Linked DNA regions of Homo sapiens: region 2 is linked to region 1. Evidence: fine-mapped expression QTL. Tissue or cell type: whole blood. Region 1 holds a variant in brackets; the other region holds the start of a gene. All regions are shown on one strand. Distances are between the middles of the regions.

The links. PIP is the estimated chance that this variant, and not a neighbour inherited with it, causes the effect.
Region 2: it holds the start of AMIGO1, and the variant in region 1 is fine-mapped to the expression of AMIGO1 in whole blood (TOPMed, PIP above 0.99).

What each region holds. Positions count from the first base shown.
Region 1 is chr1:109,310,427-109,313,184 of GRCh38, reverse strand. SORT1 (sortilin 1) reads left to right here. Exons shown (of 20, transcript NM_002959.7): 20 at 1-2,758. Among named protein-coding and RNA genes, the nearest start is that of MYBPHL, 4.8 kb to the right of the region's middle. The variant G/A (reference allele first, on the strand shown) is at 1,650.
Region 2 is chr1:109,508,474-109,511,102 of GRCh38, reverse strand. AMIGO1 (adhesion molecule with Ig like domain 1) reads left to right here and starts at 1,376. Exons shown (of 2, transcript NM_020703.4): 1 at 1,376-1,683; 2 at 2,104-2,629. The coding sequence starts at 2,191. It overlaps LOC105378893 (a long non-coding RNA gene), which reads left to right. Exons shown (of 3, transcript XR_001738179.2): 3 at 462-501. RefSeq lists silencers at 1,373-1,492, 1,553-1,702, 1,713-1,772.

The DNA of each region.
Region 1 (2,758 bases):
TAGCTGGAAGTCTGCCCAGGCTGAATGATCTCTTCCCTAGAGTTGATTGTCGGGTACACAGTGTGAACCCCCGAAGACGGAACCTCACAGTCTTCCATGTTCCCTTCTTAACTGTCGTGTGGCTCGTTGCTAAATCATGACAATGGCTGCCTATCTGCTGCTTCTTAGGTTGCTGTTGTACATGGAACCAGGACTAGAGATTTTTTCAGATTTATAGACTTAAAAAATTAGAATTTTATTACCAGGCTTTCCTTCTCACCCCTTTTTTCTGACTTTGCCAAGTAATTTGTTGACACGAAAATTTTGGAGGAACCAATTGAAAACACACTTCCAGTCTAGATGATGCTTTGTGTGATACATTAAGTTCTTATTTTGGATTAAAAGAAGTTTTCCATTTGATACCTCTCTAAATTAAATAAATTATAGAATGTAGTTGGGTGGATTTTGGGGTGGCCATATAGTAATGGAAAGCTGCAATAATTAGTTTTAATACAGCTTGAATATTTGCTATATAGAAATATAGTATGGAAAGTTTTTGGTCTTAATGTAGCTACTGTGCGGGTCACAGTTTCTCCCAATGATTATGACTGGGACATTCTTTGGTAGATACCATTTGCTACTAGTTTATTTTGTGGCTAGAAAGTCAGTTTTGTGTGTTTTTTTTTTTTTTTATTTGAAGTGCCAAATTAACTTTAGTCAGAATGTGAGCAGATGGCTAAGTTCTCTCCTCCCCAGAATGGATTAACAGCTGCGTGGAAAGTGGGGGAGAGAGTGGATGGAGACTTTTAGAGATGTTAAAACTGCAGTAGAATGAAATGAGTCAGGGAGCTTCAGTTAGAAAATAAAGTTGAGGCAGTTTTTGTGAAGATAATATGGTTAGGGCTGGAGTGCACTAGTCTTTTTGCTTATTCATTTTGCATGGTTTTAAAATTAAAAATAATTCCGAAGATACACCAGCTCACAAATGAAAACGTCAGCCTCTGCCCCACCCTCCCTCCTGCCCAAAGTGAATTTGGTACTCAGAAAAGAACTGTTTATACCACTCACCTTTCTCCCAGCATGTACTCACTGTGGGCAGATGCACCAATACATGGTAATCCTCTTACTCATTTTAAGACGTAGGAAACTCAATATTCTTCTCTAACCATATACGATAGGGCTCTTCGCTTTTAATGATATCTGGGATTTCTGTGGAACTTGGCAAATTTTCAGAGCACCTTCACTCACATAATGTCATTTGAACCTCACAATGTTCTTGGGATGGAGTCAGTTGTTCAGGGTCCCCGTGTGTGTGATAAGCAGTGCTGGCTGGCTGTCTTCAGAACTCTTGGAAATCTTTACACATGCGAGTGCTAACCACTTTGAGCAAGGCTGCCTTCTTGTAGATGACTTGCTGTTCTTTATGACAGGGATCAGTGGCATTTGTTTCCTAGCAGTATTTAGCACCTTTTTGCCACCTTGGTGAACAGAAAATTGTATTTTCCTGTCTTTCATGGCTGAAAACAAAAGTAATGGGAATTTTAAATACGTTTGCAGAAACTGCCCCTCCCCTCATTGAGGGTCACTGCTCAAGAGTGCAGGAGTGGACTCTCCACTGATGGGTCTCCCTCCCCATCCTGGTTTCCACCCCGGGCTGGCTAGCTCTGTTG[G/A]TTTGAAGACTGACAGCCAGCCTGGCTCATTCTCATTATTGGCTAGTTAGCTTTCTTTATCAACCTGCTCACTCACAAATGTGTGCCCTCAGCCAGAGAGTAAGAAAGCCCAAATCTGTTACAGCTTCTAAAAAAATAGATTTCTAATTTGTCCTACTCATGTTAGGAGCATTATCTTTGAAGGTAAAACATAGTGTATCATTGTGTAAACTCCCAGGCTTGATGTAGCAGAAGAGATCATTTCTGGAGGCTTCAGCAATGGAATTTAGCATTATAAGAGAGATTGGACAAACCAGTCCAAAGTGGTCCGAGTTCTTAAATCCAGGTAGGGAACTCACTCTTCTTTCTTCTCTGGACCTAATTGGGCATTGGGCTTTAGTGAGACCACAGACCAGGCCCGTCTCTCCTGTAGGCTTTTAATTCAATGGCAACTCTATTTCAAAGAATAAAAGCCTTTGGAGAGTTGCGGCAGTTCTGGGGGCGGGCTCAGGAGAGTCCATAGATCAGCCGTAACTGGAACGTAGAATCTACGTCTGCCTCTGAATGGACTTCCCACCTCCTCTCTCTTGCTCTGATGCTTGCCTCTGGGCCTCTCCATGCCCAAGGTGGTCTTTCATCCTTGACAGGCTGGTAATGTGCTGGCCACCTCCAGCTCCTGCATCGAGTCTGTAAACCAGAGCTGGTTCTCATGGCCTTCGTCACGATACCAGGATACGGAGGGGAGCCCAGGGCCATCCATACCCACCCCAGGGTAACGGGGCTGGCCTGGCATTAGTCATTATTTAGTTTCCAGGCCAACCATCCAGATAGAGATTCCCTCTTTCCTTTGAGCAGTGCTCTCAAGAGCTCCGTGCCTGTCCACAATGACCTAGAGTGCATCCTGCTCATTGTCAGTGTAGCCCCTCGCCCCTATATTCATCCAGGATACTTGGAAGTGCTAAAATAGGAAGGGATTCGGCTTTCAACTTTGCTACCATCTTCCCTGAAGCAGGAAAATGAACATGGACTTAAATGTTCTTTGAAAAAACCAAAGTTTTAAGATTTGCTGTGTGATGAAGTGACAGGGAGGGCCGGAGTCAGCAGGTGCCAGACTTTCTGTTCTGTCTGCC
Region 2 (2,629 bases), 200 kb before region 1:
TGCCTTTTTTTTTTTTAAGAGACAGAGTCTCACCATGTTGCCCAGGCTGCTCTCGAACTCCTGGGTTCAAGCAATCCTCCTGCCGCAGCCTCCCAAAGTGCTGGGATTACAGGTGTGAGCCACTGCACCTTGCAGAAAGACCTTTTCACACTATGCATAAGATTAACACGCTAATACTCCTTGAAGAGATAATATATTCACTAAAATTCATGGTAAAACATGTGACAGATATAAATTCTTTTTAAAACTCTTAGCAAGCTAATCTACTGAGACATTAATTTCAGTCTTGATCTTGCTGTTATAAGAGACTGGAACAAATAAAAAGGTAATTTCTTATGGTCCACCATCTCAAGAACAGCTAACATCTTGAATGATAAGGTCTAGGCTCTTCCTGCATCTCTCTCTTTCCTCACCCCCAAACCCAAACAACATACACTAGTAACAGCTTCTTGTTGTTTCAGGGGCCACCCTAAAGAAGAAACCCCTCCACCTCCACCACTGGCCTTCATCTTGAGGATTAGGTAACAGAGAAACTATGTTGCAATTGCTCCATAAGGGGAGTGGGGAGCTGGCACTGGTTTAGGAAGAAGGCAAGTGGCCAGACCTAAGGGCTGAATGACTTCCTCCGGGCTGGGAAGGGTTTCGGAGTTTCCAGGAATGGAAATTGTCCCTGGCTTGTATGCAGTCCGTGTGTGTGTGTGTGTGTGTGTGTGTGTGTGTGTGTGTGTGTGTAGCAGGTGGAGTGGGGAGAGGTGCATGAGGTGTCTGTAAAGGGGTGTTCTGGGGCCTGGGCTCACCAAACACCCCCTTTCCCCTCACTCCTGCGCAGCTGGCTTGCAGGCTAAGGAGCTGTGCCCTTCAGTGGTACCTCAAGGGTCATGAACTAGTAGCATCAAGACGGGGGTGGGGTGGGGGGAACCCCTCCCCCAATTTTTGAGACCCCACAGCCACAGAGAGAAGGGAGGGGGAACCTCAGAATGTGACTAATGAATTTCCCGCCAACATTGGCAGGCGGGAGCTGAGCCAGATTTCTTCAATTTGCGAAATTAAAAGACATGTGACGCCTCTTGCCCGAGTAGGTGCAGCGAATTCACTTTAGTTAGACTTTTCCTGAGAGCCGGTCTGTGTAGCGAGAAGGGTGCTGGGAGATGGGGGAATGGGGGATGGAGGAAGTTATAGCGGAGCCTAAGGGGCCAGTGCCGCTCTTCCTGCCAATTTTCGTCTTTAGCTCAGCGTCCGGAGCTCGCTGGTTGAGGGAACGACCCCGCGCGCGTCCGCCCGGCCGGCTCCGACACAAACACACGCACGTGCGCCCCGCCCCCGCCGCGCGCACGCGCCCCGAGGCTCCGGCGGCGGCGACGGGCGCGCGCGCGGTGCTCGCTGCCCCCACGCCGCTCCCTCCGCTGGGATCGCTGCGCCTCCGGCTCCCCGCACCGATCCGCGCCAGGCCTGCGGACCTGGAGGCAGCGACCGCGGTCGGTGGGCTCCGGCGGGCTCAGCGGTCGAGGCGGTGGCAGGGTGAGCGGAGCGGGGCCCCGCAAGTCCCCGGGAGGCGACGGTGCCGGGCGCGGGCCCCTGCGTAAGGTGGGCGCAGTGACAGGCCGGCCGGTGAGGCGCCGCCGGGAGAGGCCGCGACGGAGCTCCCAGACCGGCCATGGGCTGAGACACGTCCTCGCCGAGCAGGTGCAGTGACCGGAGGCCCCGGGGGGAGCCCGCCCCTACAGGCCCCGGGGACCCTCAACCCCGACCGGACGCGTCCTACCCAGCCCGGTGCCCTGTTGACCTTCCCTCAGCTCCTCCCAAAAGGCACACCGACCCCACCTCCAAACCCTGCCCGTGCCATCCCTGTGACTCCCAGCAGTCCCTGCCATCCTGTGCATACCTGCAGCCTGCACCCCTGTGACCCCAGCCCAGTAGGCCCTCGGGCCACCTCCTCTTCGGCCGATATTTACAGCCCACTGCCTGCACAGTGCCTGGAAACTACCCAGCATCTCTCTCTCCTAGCCCAAAGGGGGTGGAGGTAAGGGTGGGAGGGGAAGTGGGAGAGGGTGTCCTTCCCTCTGGAGTCCTTGGTGACCACAAACCCATCCTCTTTCTCTCAAGTGACCCTTCCGTACCCCACCAGAACATGCCCGGGTGACCTCCTCCCAGATCTTCCTTGTGGCCTTCCTCGCCCACTCCAGTGACACTATGCACCCCCACCGTGACCCGAGAGGCCTCTGGCTCCTGCTGCCGTCCTTGTCCCTGCTGCTTTTTGAGGTGGCCAGAGCTGGCCGAGCCGTGGTTAGCTGTCCTGCCGCCTGCTTGTGCGCCAGCAACATCCTCAGCTGCTCCAAGCAGCAGCTGCCCAATGTGCCCCATTCCTTGCCCAGTTACACAGCACTACTGGACCTCAGTCACAACAACCTGAGCCGCCTGCGGGCCGAGTGGACCCCCACGCGCCTGACCCAACTGCACTCCCTGCTGCTGAGCCACAACCACCTGAACTTCATCTCCTCTGAGGCCTTTTCCCCGGTACCCAACCTGCGCTACCTGGACCTCTCCTCCAACCAGCTGCGTACACTGGATGAGTTCCTGTTCAGTGACCTGCAAGTACTGGAGGTGCTGCTGCTCTACAATAACCACATCA